2 separate regions of the Homo sapiens genome follow, and region 1 is linked to region 2. Evidence: fine-mapped expression QTL. A gene starts in region 2. The other region holds a variant in brackets. All regions are shown on one strand. Distances are from middle to middle. Region 1 overlaps CDC37L1 (cell division cycle 37 like 1, HSP90 cochaperone). Region 2 holds the start of CDC37L1 (cell division cycle 37 like 1, HSP90 cochaperone).

Region 1 (11,695 bases), 27 kb after region 2:
CCTTGATTGTTTGGTAGTAGGAAGAAGATAGAATGAATTGGACAGATTAAATGACTATTTTGGATCCTGTTAAGGATCTAGATAAGTCAAGGAAAATACAGAGAAAGCCTTCTTTTCTTTTAGTTGTGTGCATATGCATAGGGAGGGGTTGTTTTTTATTAGCTTATTTTGCTGAAGCAGAAGGAAATGGAGCAAACCAATTATTAATGTTCCTATAAATCAGGTAGTTTTCACAAATGTGACAGGGATCGTGGTGGTTTCTATATTTAGACTATTCACCTTGTCATTACTTCCTCCACTTCAAACCTGTTATATGCTTTCTGGAATTTACTATGTCTAGAAATCTTGAAGAACACAGTCTTTGTTTTTTTTTTTGTTTTTTCTAGGCAGAGGAAGAAGGTTATTTTGAAGCATTCAAAAATGAACTTGAAGCTTTCAAGTCAAGAGTAAGACTTTATTCTCAATCACAAAGTTTTCAACCTATGACAGTTCAGAATCATGTTCCCCATTCTGGTGTTGGATCTATAGGTTTATTAGAATCCTTACCACAGGTAAGTTGGAAAAGTAAATATTTGTTTTATAAGCCTATTAATTCACATAATTTTTGTTATTTTGCCCCACTCTTTTTTTTTTTTAATATGTGCTACTATTTTAAATATTCCTGCCTCAGAAGATAACTGTTGAATCTTACTTCATGCCATGTTTTGGTGCTGAATCTCACCTCTTAAGTATTTAGAGATACCAGATTTCCTCTCCTTTTAATGTAGTAGTGATTAGTTATACCTAACCATTCTTAAGAACAAATCTTAGCTATTGATCATCTCAATCATAAACTCTTCAAGATGGCTCCCTCAGGAGCTTCCTTAAAACATCTCATCCTGAGTTAAAACTATGCCATTTTGAATTTTTTAGGATGATTAGCTTCAAAGTGGACATGCACATGGAACCAGTGTGATCTGTTGCTTAAGTTTATTTAGTATTTTCTTGTTAAATGTTGGGTCTACCAGATATAACATTTTTAGAACACATTAATGTAGCTGATAATATTGTATCTGGTAATACTGGCCAACTGTTTGAGCCTCTTTGAAGTCTTCAGTGGTTTGATCAAGATAAAACCATGTCGGCTGGGCGCAGTGGCTCGCGCCTGTAATCCCAGCACTTTGGAAGGCCGAGACAGGCAGATCACGAGGTCAGGAGATCGAGACCATCCTGGCTAACAAGGTGAAACCCCGTCTCTTCTAAAAAAAAAAAATACAAAAAAATTAGCCGGGCGTGGTGGCAGGCACCTGCAGTCCCAGCTACTCGGGAGGCTGAGGCAGGAGAATGGCGTGAACCCGGGAGGCAGAGCTTGCAGTGAGCCGAGATCGAGCCACTGCACTCCAGCCTGGGCGACAGAGCAAGACTCCGTCTCAAAAAAAAAAAAAAAAAAAAAAAAATCATGTCATATAGGCAGCATGAAAAAATTTACATCAAAAAGGAGACATGATCAGACCACTGGTCTGCCTGATGCTAGTTAGGATTACAAGTTTAAGTTATTATTAGATAATTCCTACCCATTTGATTTTACTAGTAGCACTTTAATAGAGCCCAGTCATCTCTCATTTCCAGGCTCCAAGATTTTAAGACCAGCTTTAGCCAGTTTAATCTGTTGTCTACATTGTGAGAAGGAAAGTCTTATTCAAAAGACAATGTGAGGAGAGTCCTATATTTAGTTTTAAACCTCATAAAGTGCTAAAAATTGGGATTTTCAGTGGCTTGACCTTATCTCACTGTAATTTCACCATTCCAATTACATGTATGTCCTTTAAGGAAAGTGATTGATCATATTTACCCCAGTCAAAAATATTATTATCAGGAGTCTCTGAGCCTACTCTGGCTGAAAAAAAAAAAAAAAAGTCTCAAGGATGGAAATAATTAATGTTTGATTTTTAAATAATTAGTAATGTTCCCCCTTAGTTAGACATGTAAAGAATATTCCCTCTACAAATTCCTACAGATTATCTCTTAATTTTATTTAAATTCAGTGATGATTTTTCTCTTCAGTTCCTAAGAAATAGCCCATAGGGAAGTAGTTTTTCCAGGGGAATTCTGTGACCAAGTCACTGTGAAATCCAATATATAAACCTCCTGCAATTAAAATGTCACATAATGCATGGGAAGGAGAAAAGAGACTTTGGAAGGATGTAACTGATTCTAAATATAAGAGGGAAAGATACACATTATAGTATCTTAAGCCTATATTATCAAGAAGTTGCCTCTGGTTTGAGAGAAGTAAGTCCTTGTTGTTATTAGATAGCAACTATATATTAGATAGCAACTGATATCAGGTGCTAGGCATCCCTTATAGTCATGGGGGGACTAGAATTATACAATTCTGACACTTCTGTATTGCTGATATTATCAGGGTTATTCAGATTTAATTAAGCTGGGCTAATCTCCTCATGGTGGGAGACCAATTCCTTATGGTAAGTAATTTGAGCATCCTGATGTGGTCCTTCTGAAGGATACAAGGGCTGGAGAAAATTTCAGTTAGATGCTTGCTACATGTGCGGAAAGGATTATCGACTAGTTGAGGGAAGTAAAATGAGAGGCCACCTGAAAGACCAAATCATCAGTTTAGAGGTTTGGAAGAAAAATCTTACCATAATAATAACATCCCATTTTTATATCAGTTTATATGTTGTAAAGCACTTTCACACATATTATTTAATTTTCTCAAACACCCTGTGATTCATTTTCATTCATTTTTATAGATGAGTAAACTGAAATTCATAGAACTTAAGAAATTTGCCTGAGGTCAACACAATAAGTGATGAATCTAATATTCTACTTTTGGATTTCTATTATGCTTCACTGCTTATTCACCTATACCACAGACTGTGAATCATATGTGTTGAGAATGTTACTAGATGAAAATATGGGACAGTCAATGAAATCTAAGTGTAGGTTAGGTCGGGTATACCGATTCCTTCTTATTTTTTAAAGTCTCTGTATGATAGTATCTTACAGTTCTTAGGAAGATGGGTGGATGAGTTTTGGAGAATCTCCTCAGCCAATTCTGTTATTAAAAGTTGTGCCATGGAAAACTGGAGCCCAGTCTTAATAGAGTAATTGTAAGCTCTGTTCCAGAGAATTAGGCTTGGATTGTTAGAAAAAGGTCTTAAAGCTGTTTTTTTGGAGAATGAGACAATGTAACAATAATATTGGTCATTTTTGATAAAGCTTAAGTGTGGGTAACCATTTAGCTTTTCATTTCTTTTTTTTAATAATTGACAGCAATCGTGTGAAATAAGCCAAATACCATTCATTATCCTTAGTTTTGAGAGGTCTAATCCAAGGCCTCTTGGATATAGAAATAATAACAGTTAACTTTAGGTTTATCCTGTAGACTAGTTTTTAATTTTACTAAATTGTGAATTTTGTTCTCCTTGAGGCTTGCTTTACTAAATAGAGGCAGGATTAAAACTGAAGCCCAGTGTGAGTGTCCCAGACCTCAGTCAGTTGTCCCTGCTACTTCCTTCATAAAGACCTGATTGGGAATAATCCGAACTCCAGCTAGCTTTTTGACTTTTAGAATAAAGGAATCTCACAAAGTGTTGTACTTTCTTAGGAGGATCTTTAGAAAACCCTGCCTCCCAACCTCCTATTGGATGGTGAGGTTTAAGACATCTATCCTGTTTGACTACTGTCCTCACTGGTGTTTATTAAATAAAATAAATATAAGTAAAACTAGTAATACAAGTGGTAAAAGTCTTAAGTAACTAGCAGATATTCGGAACAATTGAGTAGACAAAATTGAATTGGGGAAGAATTTTCTAAAGTTCTGGGTCTTAAGGGCTATACCCTTATTCATGGTGCTTTAATAATGGTTTTATTTTTGCATTTATTGAGTAAGATTTTATGTTTTCTATTCCCAGTTTTTGAAATTGACAAGCATAACATTTATGAGTTTATGCTTGTTTAACAAATCCTGTTGTTTTATTCTCAGTTTAAAAAATAAGGGTGTAAATACATCTCAAAAGTGTACAGATTTCTCACTGAGTTTGTTTTAACCTTTGGGAAACCACAATAGACCCTGAAGATATCCATAATTTTTACCCAGTAAATTTTTTCTTTATTTAGATGATTTGCAGTTTTAGTATTTACTGTTGTAATTAGATGGTAATCTTAAAAATGCATTGCTAACTTCAAACCATATTTAAATTATCAGTAGCTATGTATATATAATCACATGGAGGTTGTAGCCTTGCCTTGTATGATTAAACAGAGAAGAAAGGTGGTATTTGTTAACATTTCTGTTTTTTACATGTATCATTCTTTTATCACATCTCATAGGTGATAGCATCCTATTTTTTTCTTTATTTTCTTGGGATTCAGCCCAAGTCTGTCTCCAAAGTCCATCTTCTTTCCTACTGCTCTACTACACTGCAGAGAAATAGGACGGTGAAACTGAATATATATGTATGTACTGTCATAAAACTGGTTATAATGCGTTCTTTTTCTCCCCCCAATCTACCTTTTCTTTTTCCCCAGAATCCAGATTATCTTCAGTATTCTATCAGTACAGCTCTCTGCAGCTTAAACTCGGTGGTACATAAAGAAGATGATGAACCCAAAATGATGGACACTGTATAATTTGGTTAAGACTGCTGAGGCCAAGTGCTATTTTGTTACAAGAAAGGAAGAACTTGGCTATTTTCTTGACACTTTTATGGGTGCTGCACTTTATTTTTGTTCGGTTTTTGATGGGAGGGAAAGAGTACTGAAATGTTTTGTAAATTTTTTTTAATGTGCTGCTAGGTTTTTTGTTTTGTTTTGTTCTGAAGAGAAGAGTGGTACCATATGTTGCAGGAAGTCAAACTGGACTTTTTGTGGCTACTAAATTTGCTTTTAATCTTATTGTTCTCAATTTTGGAATCAAGTATGAAAATCTGCACAAATGCAATGTTTACAAGAACTGGTTGATTCTGGGAGGCATCTGCTACAGTCTCTTTTTATATGGATATGTACATGTCCTATTCTACAAAAATGATTAAAGATAAAAACATACTTGTATCCCACTGCTACTTTAGCTGTCAAATTTGGTGTTTCATCACATTAAAAGCAATAAATCAGTAGTTGGTAATGTACTTTACTAAATAAGTTGGGGGGTACAATTTTTAAAAGTCTTAACTCTTAAATACTTGACTTTCGGCACCATCAGTTAAATCCTTGACTATAATACAAATTTGATATATACATTACATTTACCCTCAAATTATTCTCAAAACTATATTCCTTAGAATTTGATTTTACCCTGCTGACTTTAAGAGTTATAATAATATCAAATGTGATGAGCTAATATAGATTTTCTTTTTAAATAAGAATAACTTCAAGCTCACTCTTTCTTAACATAGTCTGGGATCTCTCAGGGAGTAAGTTTTAAAAGAATACTAATGGCTTGTAAGAACAAACAGGAATAATAATCTGATTTTTAAATTTGTAGTTATTTTACTCATGTTGCCTTTTAATTTTTGTTATTTTGGTTTATTTTTTGATGTAGCCTTTTAAAAAAGGAGTCTTAAAAATGATTTTTTTTTTAAAGGCAAGAGAAATCTTGT[A/G]GTGCTAACTGCCTTGAGCTGCCAATTACCTATTTCTGAGAATTTGGTGACTCTTATTGGTAATGATGGCATTTACAACATTTGGCATTTCCCCTTTTTCAGCTCAGTTACCATAGAATACTTCCAAGCTTTACTACTTCCTCTGTAAGTCATTTCAGTTATGCCAGGATATTTGATGATTTTGTTTATGTAGAATTAGGTAACAAAGCCAATTATGCTATCCTTATTATTGAAGGATTAATCTTATGACTTAACATAAGCTTTGGTTATATTTGGGTGTAGTCTTTGGCTAAGTACCCATTAAGGCTAGTAGCAAACACTTGGAAGGTGGCTAACTGGGACTGGGAATACGTGTCTCAACTTGAGAAACCAAATAGTGCGAAGGGACTCAGGGTGGCCAGACCTGTGACCTTGGCCTCATTTGTATCTTGTTTTCGCTGAGGTGATCAGACACTTAGTACCCTAGAAATGGACTGGAATTATTGAATCTTCTTCTGTAACATCACAATCTTCCTGGTTTTCAGAATAAACGTTTTTGTGCTTTTGATATAAATATATACTCTATAATAAAATGTTTGACTAATTTATATAGTAGTGTTTGTCAGCCTGTACTTTTTTTTTTTTTAAACCCATGACCTAGTCGTAGACATTTTTTTCTTTTTGTTCTGTTCTGAAGCAAGCTCTTATTTTTCCCTTTCTACCAAATTGAGAGAATGGGCAGACACAGGAGCCATATTCCTAGTTTCACAGAAATGTTACTTGAATTATTATTTTCCCTTCTTTCCCAGGATTTGCCTGTAAGCATTCAAATTGTTTTGAATTTCATTTTGCCTTCTCTAAGTTAGAGGTATTTAATGACTGAAGACTGGCAGGAGAGAAAGTATCAACAAACTGAGTAAACTATTCTTGAGGGGCACTGAAAAGATGTTCTTTGAAACTTGATTTATATATTTTTACTTGCAAAAGAATATACTGTGTTTTGAGTATGAAAGTGTGATTGGGTCTGTTGTGGGAACCACTGACTGATGCCATAATTTGCACTTAAAGGCTATAAATTACATAGTTAGCCGTACTTTAGTACTAGAAACAGTAAATTGACATCCTTGAACTAATTCCTACCTTTTTTTTGTTTCTGAAGAAATAAAGAGTATATTAAGCAAAGGGATAATTTATATTTCAGGTTGGACAATTTACCCTAAACAAATTAAACCATGGAAAGTGCAAACACATGAATGAAACATTTTTTTACATCAAAGTATCATCAAAGATTCTTGTTTCATTTGATAAAATTAATATTTGAATAAAAAAATTTTTAAATCAAATAGCTGTCCATTTATTCTCTGTTAACTCAGTGTCATTTTTTCAGTGGTAGTGAAGATAATACTGCCTTAAAATTATTACTCTTAGGTAGATGGGTAACATTCTCTTCCAATTATACCATTAGTGAGCTCTTTCAAATTTTGCCTAATGAGCTCACAATCTCTTATAACTTCTCTTTAGGAAAATCAGGTCCTCCTCTTCTTTCAGACTGGCATATCATATTATTACCCTTTTAAAAATGAATGAACAGCCGGGCGCAGTAGCTTACGCCTGTAATCCCGGCACTTTGGGAGGCCGAGGCGGGTGGATCCTGAGGTCAGGAGATCGAGACCATCCTGGCCAACATGGTGAAACCCTGTCTCTACCCAAAATACAAAAATTAGCTGGGCATGGTGGCGCGTGGCTGTAGTCCCAGTTACTCAGGAGGCTGAGGCAGGAGAATCGCTTGAACCCCGGGAGGCAGAGGTTGCAGTGAGCCAAGATGGCGCCACTGCACTCCAGCCTGGCAACATCTAAAAATGAAAATGAACATGCTGCCCAAAGAACATGAATCTGTTTTAGTAAGTGGATTTTCTAACAGGATGAAAAAAGTTGACTGTAGGTTTAGGCAAGGTGATCCTGAAGTTAACCTTTGGGTATTTTCAGAGGAGAACGAAATGTCAGTTTACTTTTCTAAGTCAATCATGTATTTCAGTTCTTAAATTGGTGTGGGACAGAACCGAGGTACTTGTCTGGGTTGAGGTTGGGCTTTCCATTTCATGGGCTTTCCATTTCAATTTTGCCATTATAGCAAACATACTTTTAACAAAACCCTTAAATCCATCCATCTCTCATCTGTAATGGACATGTATATACAATTGCATAGTTCTGAGAAGTTGATTTATCTGAAAATTATTTGCTCACTATGTGAGCCAAGGGGGTCGGGAGGGGGACACAGGGTGAATATAAGTTCATTATGGATTGTTCACCATCTAATATGAAGTGAAACCATTCTCATAAGCTTTGAAGAATTAGACTTGTTTGATCTCTAAATATAGAAAATGATTATTAAAATTCCCACATCTTTCACACAGTTAACAGCATGATTCTTCATGTTATTTACACATCAGACATTTAACTTGGAATGCTTTAGAAAAAGATGACACAGTGCTGGACTGATTTACACTTAGGCATGACAGTTTATTCAGTGCTATATATGGAAAAATCAGTGTTTATATTATTTAGTGAGCTAAAAACAAATAAAAAGCAGGAGGGGGATAAGGGCTCTACAAAGCATACTGGCTTTTACCAGAAGCTTTAAGCACAGCTACACTATTTTAACTGTTTAAAAATTTTTTAACCATAACTTCCAAGATGAAAATCTTTAACTGCAAAGATAGAAAAGCTATTTCTACAGTTTATCAGGGCCTGAGGATTTATTTTTATTTTTATTTTTATTTTTTGGTCAATGAGAAGACACAACATATTCTAAAATACAAATTCTTGCTGTTGGTTGCAACTATAGCAATTTAACATAATTTGAGATCTATAATTACAATGATTTGTTGTTAGTATAGGGCAGTTTTGTCACAAGTTATGAGGATCCAAAATATCTTGCTAGAATGCCATTATATATAGCTGGGGGAAAAGTAGCCATAGGGTGGGGTTTAGAGATTTGAGCCAGTATTTAAACTATTTGAAATGGAACTGACAGAAATTTCTGGATGGTGCTAACAACTGCTAGTTTGCATTTCCCACAGTACACGCTGCTTACAAAAGGTATAGCAAAATAACTTTTACTCTATAAAATAAATCAGTTGAGGTGCTGTTCTCCCTGGCTTTTTTTTTTGAGACGGAGTCTCCCTCTGTCGCCCAGGCTGGAGTGCAGTGGCACGATCTCAGCTCACTGCAACCTCCGCCTCCCGGATTCACACCATTCTCCTGCCTCAACCTCCCGAGTAGCTGGGACTACAGGCGCCCGCCACCATGCCCGGCTAATTTTTTTTTTTTTTTTTTGTATTTTTAGTAGAGACGGGGTTTCACCGTGTTAGCCAGGATGGTCTCGATCTCCTGACCTCGTGATCCGCCCGCCTCGGCCTCCCAAAGTGCTGGGATTACAGGCGTGAGCCACCGCGCCCGGCCTCTCATTGGCTTTTAACAAAAGTATAGTAGTTTCTCCTAGCCATGGCATTCAGCTCCATACATGTATTTCCATGTGGTACATAAATCTTAATGATGGTCATTACAGAATTATTTTTTTGGGTGGGGGCAGTGGCTTACACCTGTAATCTCAGCACTTGGGAAGCTGAATCAGGAAGACTGTTTGAGGCCAGGAGACTAGCCTGGGCAACATATCGAGACGCCGTCTCTACAAAAAAATAAAATTAGCCAGGCATGGTGGTACATACCTGTAGTTTCAGCTACTTGGGAGGCTGAGGTAGAAGAATTGCGTGAGCCCAGGAGTTCAACGTTACAGTGACCCAATTATGCCACTGCACTCTAGTCTGGGCAACAGAGTGAGGCCCTGTCTAAAAAAAAATAAAGAAAAAAGTTGTATTACAGTCATATTCATTCCTAAAGTAATGAATGTATGTGCAAAACTTTGGGCTAAGTGTTTGCGGGTGGGGAGGGAATGGTCACAGGAAATAAGAGTCTTAATTCTCATAGCCATGTTCTTCCACTGCTCACTTTGATTTCCAAATCCCCTAAGGGTATTATGAAGGCCGGTATGGCTACCATAGCAGGAGATGAAGTATTGCATAAACTGAAACCAGCCTATGGACTGTTTTAAGATCATTTATTAGAACAGTCATTCAGAAGCCATTGAGACATCAGGCAGCAGAAAGGAAGGTGGGATGGAGCAGGCCCTGTGAAGGACCAAGAACAAAGTAATAGCCACAGTTATGAAATTTCATTTTATTCTGATAAAGACTAATATATGCTTGATAACCTAGTGATAATCCATAAGTTTGGTATTTCACAACATTTTTTAGAAAGCACATAAGATTAACATTCAAATAAGGCATTATAGAAAGTTTTATAAAGAATGAAGTGTTTCCTATATTTCTTTTAAAAAACCTTGGTTCATCTTGAAAGATCGATGAATTTTTTAAATATCAGAAGAAAAGGGAAATAAAATTTTCCCCCCAAAACACATAAGAACCACTTACTGGCACTTGTATTTTAAGTACCTGGGAAAAAAACGGAACAGATTTTTAAAGGCAATAACGACTTGTAAGACGGCTTGTTTCATTTGATTTGGCACGAAGTAAAGTAAGAGTAAATATGCCATGGAAGACATAATCAAGTTTTTCCTCCATCTCTCATATTTCCCCACTTCTACCAGACCACACAGTACATCAGCAACCATCCTTTAGATTCCAATTTTTAAATGGCTGCTCAGACGACACCAATAGAGTTCTTTCTCCTTAAAATATGGTGGCAGTGAATGCTAACAGGTATCAATTTCTTTGATCAGGAACAAAGAACTCCTTCAGGAAACTCACTTTCCTGGTCCTTGTTAACCTATCATGTAAATTCTTTTTATTGGTACACCTGTTTACTAATTATGATTGATTGCTATTTATGCCAAGGGAGCATTTCCCAGGCATGCCTCATCTATTTACTAACAACAAAGTATGCTTACTTTATTTACATAGTGCCACGGGTTTCTCTTTTTTCTTCTCTTTTTTATTGGCGGGGGAGATGGTACTATAACTTGTTATTTATCAGGGCAGATCACACATTTGGATCAAAAAGAAAAACCAGCAAGTAGATCCTAAAACACATTTCTTAACCTGAGTCATAACTGAAAACATAGACTTTAATTACATTTTGTTGAAAATTCATTCAACTTTGGTGCTTGTAAAAGCACTTATGTCAATTTTTGACACAAATCATAACCCTCAGTACACAGGTATTTTCAAAGGAAACAAGTCATCTTAAAGTAATATTTTTCTATATGCTAATTGATACATCTTTATAGCAAATTGAAAATTCTGAGTAAACTGAAAGTATGCTTAACGACAAAATAAATACAGCATATATGGTTAACATATACATTTCTTAGTGTAAAGGCAGCAGTGAATTTGTGTCTCACAATAAATCTGTAAATCCAGTTGCTTTCTTTCTGGAATTTTATATAGTGTCTCACCATGTTCCACAATGCTGGAAATGTCTTTTTTGGCATCAATCTATGCACAAATTTCTGATTACGTATTTTCTCCAAATGACATGTAACTTTTTTTAACTTTTCCAGAAAAATATGGAAACTTTATCAACCACTTATTAACTGAACAAAAAGTTAGATTACTACCAAATGCTCTTTTAATTTTGCTCTAACAGATGTTTTAAAGGTTCAGACATCGCTGATGTTTTTGAGGATAACTGCATACAACACACTAGATGATTTCAAACGATGCATCTTAGTATCCGAATCATTTGGCACATCCTTAGTATCCAAAATAAAATCAGTAGAAATAAAAGTAATATAATTTTCAAAGAATTCATACATACTAGAAGTCTTAGGAAAAGCAGCTTCTAAATGCAAGGACTAGGAGGTTTGCCCATCTTACTATTAATAGTTACACACATTTCTCCTCATGGAGTAACTGAAGCTTTCTGGCTTCTTTGTGGAACTTTAGTTTGTAGGAAAGCATATACATAGGGCCAAATCTTGTTGGTTTCTGTTCCGGAGAATGTTTCCAGCACCCCTTTTTTCCTAAAGATGAAACAAAAACAAAACAAACACACACAGGTCTGAGTCTTCCTAATAAGCTCTTTCAAAGCCTTTCTGT
Region 2 (9,798 bases):
TTCCACAAGGGCTGCCCTTGGGCTTTTTGGACTACATAGTCTTTCCATTTAAAAGTAATTTCTACTCAGAAAAAAACCTAATTTGCTCCTTTGAGTTTCAGCTGGCTAGCTCTATGTCCATGGGAGTAATAGGCAAATTATGACCCAAAGCAATTTCCAAGGAATTTTATTTATTATCCAAAATAAGAAAGTAGAAGTGTATGATTAAGTTCCAAGACTTGTTTAAAAAGTGTCTACTGGAGCTGGGCGTGGTGGTACATGCCTGTAATCCCAGCCACTTGAGAGGCCGAAGCAGGAGGATCTCTTGAGCCCAGGAGTTTGAGACCGACCTAGGTAACATAGCAAGAACTGTTTCCAAAAATAAGTGTTTACTATGCCAGGGCACAGGATTCAGATCCTGAAGTCAGCAATGGCTCAAGATGAGGCTACTTCTGATATCATTATATCCACTCCTTATCTCCTACCAAAATATACTTCTTTCTATTCCTTTTTCACCACCTTCTGCCTTTATTTAACCTTTTCTTTTATCCTTGTTTCCATTCATTCATTCTCTATCCATTTATTCAGCCCACATTTATTGAGTGTCTACTGTAAGCCAGGTATTGTTCTGAGCCATGTAAGTACAAGAGTGAATAAGAAACAATCTGTGCTCTCATGGAGCTTACATTCTATTGGGGTAAGAAACATAATAACTAAGTGAACATAAAATAATAGTATGATGAATAGTAGAAAGGAAATATACAAGGTGGTAAAATAGAACAGGTTGAAGAAGAAACGAGAACTTCATTTAGACTCACTGGCCAGATTGGCCTAAGAGTATGAGATTTGGTCTAAGATCTAAGAAGAAAAGCATGACCACTAGCAAGCCTTTCAAAGTAAGAGAAAAGGCAAAGGGAATAGCAACTCGAAAGGGCCATGAGTTAGGAAAGGAACTGCCATGTTTGAGGAACTGAAAGGAGTCCAAGAGAGATTTTGGGGTGGGAGAGGGCAAGGAAGGTGTTAGGGAGAGGGTTTAAGAAACGACATTCAGGGCCGGGTGCAGTGGTGCACACCGGTAGTCTCAGCACTTTGGGAGGCCGAGGCGGACGGATCACCTGAGGTCAGGAGTTCGAGACCAGCCTGGCCAACATAGTAAAACCCCGTCTCTACTAAAAATACAAAAATCAGCTGGGTGTGGTGGTGCACATCTGTAATCCCAGCTACTCGGGAGGCTGAGGTAGGAGAATCGCTTGAACCCAGGAGGTGGAGGTTGCCGTGAGCTGAGATGGCGCCACTGCAGTCCATGCACTCCAGCCTGGGAGACAGAGCGAGACTCCATCTCAAAAAAAAAAAAGAAAGGAATGACACTCAGGAATTAGGGTGCCACTAGGTTTCACAGGAACTTTATCAATTATGGCAGAGAATGTGATTGCCTACCTTACTGCCACAAACTCTTCCTCCTTGCTAACAGAACTCCAGTTTTGTTTAGGTAGCAATGCATCCAGCTCCAGACAACAAATCATAATTTATGTAAGCCAGTTCTGGCCAATAAGATATAAGGATTTCACTAGAAGGTTTCGAGAAATATCTTTATTCTTCATATGAGAGCCACAAGTGAATAAAGCTGTTTTGCCTCCTTCTCTGTCTTCCTGCTTTAGCTTCTGCCATATTTTGATGTGATGTCCAGAGCTGTAGCAGCCATCCTGCAACCATGATGTAAGAAGCCTGAAGATGAAAGTAAACAGATTTAGGATGCTGGGGAGGAGGGATAGGGATTGAAAGAACCTGAATCTTCCTTTCCTTTTCCTTTCCTTCCCTTCCCTTCCCCTCCCCTCCCCTCCCCTCCTTTTCCTTTCCCTTCCTTTCCTTTCTTTCTTTTGCGACACAGTCTCGCTCTGTCACCCAGGTGGAGTACAATGCTGTGATCTCAGCTCACTGCAACCTCCACCTCCCGGGTAGCTGGGATTACAGGCATGCACCACCAGGTCTGCCTAATTTTTGTATTTTCAGTAGAGACGGGGTTTTGCCATGTTGGCCAGGCTAGTCTCGAACTCCTGGCCTCAAGTGATCCACCCGCCTTGGCCTCACAAAGTGCTGGGATTACAGGTGTAGGCTACCACGCCTGGCCTGAACCTGAATATTTAATGACATCTTCAAACTGCTAAGCCTATCCTGGGATCATTCTTTTTGTTACATACACAATAAATGTCCTTATAGTTTAGGTTTCTTTTAGCTGAGGTTTCAGTTATTTGCATTGAAAGCATATAATTGATATAGCAGGGGTGAGACATGATATGATTTATGTATTTTTTAAAAATCTCTCTGGCAACAGTATGAAGAGATTGTAAGGAGCAAGAATGGAACAGAAGCATGGAAGACTACTGCAGTAGTTCTGAGAAGCAATCATAGTGTTCTGGCCTAGGGAGTATGCAGTAAAGCAGGAAAGAACATAGATTCAAGATGTATTTGGGGGTAAAAACAGTAGGACTTGCTGTTGGTATGAGAGGTAAAGGAGAGGGAGGAACTAAGGCTGAACTCTAGGTTTTGGACTGGATGGTGATGCCATTGATTGACACGGAGAAGACCCAAAGAAGTTTGGGGAAGGCGGTGAGATCAAGGGTTTGGATGTGTTAAATTTAAGATGTGTATGAACCATTAAAATGAGATGACAAATCAGCGGGTAGACATGAGTCTGGAGCACAGGGGTAAGGTCAGGACTTGGATTTCAATTTGAGAATTATAGATACACAGATGTTATTTAAAGCCACAGGAATAAACAGGATTCTCCTCACTGGCCAAAATATGAGGAACTCTAAAGTTAGAGGTCAGCTAGAAGGGAAGAAGACTGAGGAGAAGTAGTGAAAGAGGTAGGAGAAAAACTAACAGCATTAGCGTTTATATAGGGCTTACTTTATGCCAGGCACTATTCAAAGCACTTTGTGGCTTCATGGAAGCAAAGAGAAAAATGTTTTTCTTTTCTTCCTCCCTTTCCAGTCTCTCCTGTGACTTTCACCCCTAAATTCAAAAGGTTTAGGTGCAAAAGTGATTCTCAGCTTTTATTTGTAATTAATTTTATAGTAATCTTGTACTGTTATAATCTTGTACTGTTATAATACTATAATTATAGTATACATTCATTGGAAAAATATTCAAACAGCACAGTACAGGGAAGCTAAATGTGGAAAGTAAAGATCCTCAGAAGCTTTCCTTCCTAGGCTCACCCACCAGAGGTAATCATTAACAGTTTCTTGCATATCCTCCAGGAATGTTCTGCGCAAACACACACACACACACACACACACACACACACACACACGGACGCAAACAAATACCATCCCTCTCTCTTCTCTCTCTGTATACGTACGCATATGTTTAATTCTGCAAGTTGCTTTGTTTAAAACTCAATACCTTTTGGAGGTATTTATATATCAGCATATTCAGATACAATTTACTTTTTTTAAAAAGGGTAATATGCCATTGTATTAATATTCCATACTTTAAGTTCCTCTATCGATGGACAATTAGAATGCTTTTTTTTTTCTTGCCACACACACACAAAAATTGCTGCCAGAAATCTTTGTAGTAAATCTTTGGATATTGGTGCAAAAATAATTGTTGCATACTTTCTTAGTGGTGAAATTGCTGAATCAATCCGCTCAAGCCTCTCATATTGTCAAATTACTCCTCCTAAAAGGTTATACTAATGACATTCTCACATCATTTCCTTACATCTTGGTACACATTTGGTATTAAGCGACTTCACAAGTTTGCCAGTCTAAACACATGGAAAAAAATGGCGTCATGTTGTTTTTATTTGGGTCTCTTTATGAGTAGGGCAGCAAGACCTGATTGTTAAACGTTCAAGTTTTGAAGTTAAACTCCCTGGGTCTGGATCCTACTTCTTCCTTGTAAAATGTGTGATCTCGGGCATGCTGGGTCTACTTCCTCGTCTCAAAAAAAGAGGATAAAGAGAGTACATATCTTTAGGCTTAAACAAGATACGCAGGCATACAGGAAGCCCTTCTTATGCGTTCGCTACTAGCGGTACTGATCCTAATTTTTTTGAAGCCGTGCCGGCTCCGGTACTTTATTTTTGGTGTGCTCCTCCAACCAACCAAGTTTCGCAGAATTCTGTTGTTGCCTGTAATTAGAAATGAGACGAAAATTGGCTCCGCTTGTTCAAAATTCTCCTCCCTCCGCCCCAACTCTGCCTTAGAATCACTGGTTTAAATGTCAATGTAAAGGAATGAGTTGCAATTTTTAAGCAACATGTAAAGTGCACACCTGGTCTGAGTACCTCCCGGCGGCCAGGACCCGCCGTTTTCGGTATAGGGAACACCAGATAACAATATATAACGCTACCTAACAAACGTTTCTCCACCCACAGCGCCATTAGCGGTTAGGTTTGCAGTGCCGAAGAGCTGCAAGAAAACGGGGCTTGAAACAGGAATACAATTGCAGATCCACCCACTACACGCAAAGGGCCCGGGACGCGCCTCCACAGCCCCGCCCCAACCGGAAGTGACGCACCGCGCCGACTATTTCTTCCGCCGTCCGCCGGTGGCGAGGCCCAGGCTGTCGCCGGGTGTGCAGCGGCGTCGCGGCCAGTAGAGGGATTCTGGGTAACGGCCCGGACCCCCGGCTGGGCTTCTGGCTCGGCGCAGCAGGTTCCATTCACGCCAAGTCTGTTGGCAGTGGCAGTTGTAGGGCCAAGGGCGGTTGTAGGACCCGGAGCAGCCGGACATGGAACAACCGTGGCCGCCTCCGGGACCCTGGAGCCTCCCTCGGGCCGAGGGTGAGGCTGAGGAAGAGAGTGACTTCGACGTGTTCCCCAGTTCTCCCCGCTGCCCGCAGCTGCCAGGCGGCGGCGCCCAGGTGAGAAGGGGCCTGCGTTCTGCGGAGGGATGGAGTGGTGCTGTCGCCAAACCCCTGGAATGCCGCGTCTCCCAGACCCTCTTCTACGCCTTTTTCTACGCCCACCTCACTGCCAGGGGCCGGGGACCTGGGACCTGACGCCTGATGCCATCCCACCCCTTTTATGGCATCTTCGGAGGGCAGACGGGGTGGCCATATATTACCAACCTCCACCTCCACGCACATGTTTTCTTTCGCCTTGGCTGATTCCTGTTCACTCTTGGAATACCTTCCTCCATCTCCCCTTCCTGACAGCACTCAGATTTGGGGCGGCTCATGCTGTAACATTGACCCTTTGTCCTCTTGTGAGAGGTTTTCCCCAAGCACTTTATTCTGTTAAAGGCTCTAGCATACTTGTGCACAGTTGCTAGGAACAGTGAATGATTGTAGTTCAGCATCACACTGAGTCCTGACAAAGATTTCACATGCGATTTTCACCGATGTTGACAACTGAGTAAATTCTTTAAATCTCGCTTTTGACGCTGGCGTACACCTCTCCCATTCGCGTGACCATCTTTGCCTTACTGTTTTGTTTTTTAGTTTTGCTTCACGTCATTCTCCAGTGAAAATATATACGCATATACTTGTGTTTTCCTTCAGACTTCTCTTAGGTTCCTGGTATTGTGTTTTCAATCCAGCATTCCTGCCTTCCTGCGACTGAAACGTATCCAAATGTGATATACTATTAAGGATTTTTCAGGGACCTATCTTAGGGGATACTTACATACTCGCATCACCTTGTCCTGTTTTTTTCTCCGAATCCGTGTGTGTTTTGGAAGTATATTTCAGAATCACAGACTAAACACTAATATATTCAATGGATCATAAGTGTCTGCCGCCTTCTTGCAAAATGGGGTTCCCAAGAGTGTAACAGATTTAATAGTAGTTTTCCTCTCAACTTATTTTGCTAGATGTTAATGAGAATGAGTTAAATTGCTTACCAGTAAGCGTGACATTATCAATCTTATGTCCAGCTAACAGGGTTAGTTGGCTTCACACAGAGAAAAATGCTGTTTCATAACCACTGTCTGTACTTTGGCCAGCTAAGTCACTGGGGAACTACAAGACATTTTTTAGGAGGACAGAATGAGAGTTGATGGGTCCATCATTAGTCACCCACTAATTTTGGATCACTAGTGTCATCTTTATATACAAAATGTATTATAAGCACATGATGTGCTAGGGAGGAAAGAAGAATGAACAGCAGATGCCATTGTCAATTTTGAAGGCATATGAAGAGAAAAAAGGGTGTCAAGAATTTCAGTGCATTGTGGTTGAATTACAGAAGTAATCTAGAGAAATATCTGTATGTTAATTTCTTACTTGTGCACTTCTAAATTTGTTTAGCTGGAAGAGATTTTAGAAGTGAGTAAGCTTATCTCTCTCATTAAAAGTGTTTTCCCTGAGGCCATGTAACTAGTTAGTGGCCAGGTTAAAACTAGAACCCACTTATGACTCCTAGTCCAGTATATTTTCCCACCTACTGCACTGCCCACCAGAGTTCGAGACCAGCCTGACCAACATGGAGAAACCCTGTCTCTACCAAAAATACAAAATCAGCCTGGTGTGGTGGCGCATGCCTGTGATCCCAGCTACTCGGGAGGCTGAGGCAGGAGAATTGTTGGAGGCAAAGGTTACAGTGAGCCGAGATCACACCATTGCATTCCAGCCTGGGCAACAAGAGCGAAACTCTTGTCTCAAAAAAAAAAATTTTTTTTGCAAACTGATTATTAATTCTGAGTTCATGTGTTTATTACAAACCTACTTATTGGTCTTACTGGCTTTAAGACTTAAATTTTTGGATTGGAATATTTGGAAAAAATAAAATGTTTAATTGATTAACATTTTATAATCCTAAAAAAAGCTTTGGCTTAATTTTATCAAATAAGGGGGATCTAGACTTCTTAATGTAGTATGTGATATGTAGTTCTTAGATCCAATTAATGTAAAGGCAGATCATGTTTAATGTCCCTCTAAAACTTCTGTATGGTCATGGATTAGAATGTGACCTAATATTTTATTTAATATCTGAATACATGTTGGATAGTTTGCCCAAATGGCCAAATGTTGTCTGGGTAGTTTGTGGAGAAATAAGACATACATTATTTTTAGAATTTTTCGATTTGAGAAAAGAATATTTGCTCCCAAATAATTTGAAAATGCAAGATAATTTCTATTTATCCATATTACCATATTACTTTTCTTGATATATTATCCTTTCTCTTTTTTTTTTTTTTTTTTTGAGGCAGTGTCTTGCTGTGTTGCCCAGGCTGGAGTGCAATGGCACGATATTGGCTCACCACAGCCTCCGCCTCCCAGGCTCATGTGATTCTCCTGCCTCAGCCTCCTGAGTAGCTGGGATTACAGGTGCCCACCACTGTGCCCAGCTAATTTTTTTTTTTTTTTGAGATGGAGTCTCGCTGTGTCACCCAGGCTGGAGTGCAGTGGTGCAATCTCGGCTCACTGCAACCTCTGCCATTCTGGGTTCATGCCATTCTCCTGCCTTAGCCTCCCAAGTAGCTGGGACTACAGGCACCCGCCACCATGCCCGGCTAATTTTTTGTATTTTTAGTAGAGATGAGGTTTCACCACGTTAGCCAGGATGGTCTCGAGCTCCTCCTCGTGATCCGCCCGCCTCGGCCTCCTGAAGTGCTGGGATTACAGGTGTAAGCCACCACTCCCGGCCATGCCCAGCTAAGTTTTAAAATATTTTTAGTAGAAACGGGGTTTCGCCATGTTGGCCAAGCTGGTTTCGAACTCCTGACCTCAGGTAATCCGCCCGCCTCAGCCTCCCAAAGTGCTGGGATTACAGGCGTGAGCCACTGAGCCCAGCCAAAAGAAGTTTTATATACAAAAGTTCTTACATCTTTTCTTACAAAATAAGTTATATAGCTTAATTTTTCTCCTTTTCCTGGCTCTGTTTTAAGCATAGCTAGTCTACAGTTATTCTTGATCCTATTCTAAGATAACTATTCTTGATCCTATTCTAAGATAACAAAAAGTAAAAATAAATATTTTATTTTAAAATATTATATTTTATATTAAAATATTTTATATTAAAATATAATATATATATTAAATATATATTATATTTATATATAAAATATATTTTAAAATATATTTTAAAATATACTTTATATATTTTATATATATATTTTATTTTTATATATAAAATATATTTTATATATATTTTATAATATATGAATATATATTATAAAATATACTTAGGGACATGGTTTATAGTACCTTGGCTCCAAACCTGCTGAATGAGTAAATAAAACATCTGAATAGCAAGTGTCCACATTTGTCCCAGTACAAACGTGAGTTTGCCTGAAGACTCAGCTAAGAGGTAGGGTCCTTGGTTACTACTTGCCTCAGAATTGTTTACCACCACCAGTCAGTAAACAAATAAGCATGATATTGTATGACAAACACCACAACAGAAATATGCATAACTTGGGTCGGGAGACACTGGGTCAGAAAAAGTTTAGGGCATGCCAGAATCTGGATGAAGATAGGAGTTTCTGTAGGAGTTACCTCGAAGAAAGAGGATTGCCAAATTGAAGTGAGGGACAAGGGTGGGAAAGGGAAGAATAAGCAAACAAGTAGAAGAGCAATGGGAACTGAGTCTAAAGAGGTAATGGGAAATAACATCACGAAGGGCTTTGCCACAGAGTATGTACTTTATCCCAAAGCTAAGAATGAAAAAAAAGATCAGATTCATTTTTTGGAAAGATCACTCCAGTCTAGTGGAGTGGAGAACGGCTTGGGATAAGAGTCTGCATTTGTATAATTCACATGTGAAATTATAAGGGCTTGAATAGTGATGCAGATATGGGAACAGATTGGAGAGAAATTATTCTGAAGTTGATGTACATTTGACGAAGAACTCATAAAGAATGTGCCTTCAGCTTTTGTTTTATAGAGCCAAGGAATATAGGGTATTGAATGTCTATCACAGTACTTTACATGTAGTAATTAAGTAAATAAAAGTAATTACTACTGCTTCGGAGTAGTACGGTCAGCAGGGTAGACCATTGTCACTTTTAAGAAATGTAACTTTGTGGCCAGGCGCAGTGGCTCATGCCTGTAATCCCAGCACTTTGGGAGGCCAAGGTGTGTAGATCACGAGGTCAAGAGATCAAGACCATCTTGGCCAACATGGTGAAACCCTGTCTCTACTAAAAATACAAAAATTAGCTGGGCATGGTGGCACATGCCTGTAGTCCCAGGTACTTGGGAGGCTGAGGCAGGAAAATCACGTAAACCCCAGAGGCAGAGGTTGCAGTGAACTGAGATCGCACCTTTGCACTCTAGCCTGGTGACAGAGCAAGACTCCATCACAAAATATATATATATATAATTTGCCTATTTTGATTAGGAATAAATTAAAGGATATCTGTCTGATATAATCAGTTATAAATGGAAATATCCAATAAGAACTTCTCAAATCACCAAGGATTGGAAAAATACAGATAGAAAATAGAAACCAAGAAACGATTACTTCTAGATAAAAGGAGGTTTTTTTGTAGTGAAGAATTTGGAGAACAAAATTATAAAGGCCTGGTTGTCAGCATGTTGAGTATTGAGGTGATGAACTAGATTTAAGCTTTGTTCTCATTATTCTGCTTGTTCAGGATTATGAAGACTATTAATTAAACGTTTGTTAAGCACTAGCTTTATGCAAGACACTGTGATAGTTGCCAGGCTTTTTGTTGCTGTTAGTTGTCAGGGGATAGGCCTAAATTAACAAAGAAGTTTAGAAGTTAGTTGATGAAACAAGGACTAAGATATAAAAACATGACTGCAGACCTAGAACACAGGATATACTATATACCAAAATATTGTACAGAAATCCTTTGAATTAAGAAAAATTGAACTGTGCTGCACAAACATCCATTGCTT

The links. PIP is the estimated chance that this variant, and not a neighbour inherited with it, causes the effect.
Region 1: its variant is fine-mapped to the expression of CDC37L1 in caudate (GTEx, PIP above 0.99). The same link has a PIP of 0.9 or more in aorta, fibroblasts, hypothalamus, lung, nucleus accumbens and prefrontal cortex.

What each region holds. Positions count from the first base shown.
Region 1 is chr9:4,701,478-4,713,172 of GRCh38, forward strand. CDC37L1 (cell division cycle 37 like 1, HSP90 cochaperone) reads left to right here. Exons shown (of 7, transcript NM_017913.4): 6 at 387-551; 7 at 4,534-6,922. The coding sequence ends at 4,635. It overlaps AK3 (adenylate kinase 3), which reads right to left. Exons shown (of 5, transcript NM_016282.4): 5 at 8,079-11,619. The coding sequence ends at 11,499. Among named protein-coding and RNA genes, the nearest start is that of CDC37L1, 28 kb to the left of the region's middle. The variant A/G (reference allele first, on the strand shown) is at 5,601.
Region 2 is chr9:4,675,046-4,684,843 of GRCh38, forward strand. It overlaps CDC37L1 (cell division cycle 37 like 1, HSP90 cochaperone), which reads left to right and starts at 4,524. Exons shown (of 7, transcript NM_017913.4): 1 at 4,524-4,854. The coding sequence starts at 4,723. It overlaps CDC37L1-DT (CDC37L1 divergent transcript), which reads right to left and starts at 4,435. Exons shown (of 2, transcript NR_121598.1): 1 at 4,342-4,435; 2 at 1,555-1,704. RefSeq lists an enhancer at 4,658-4,747.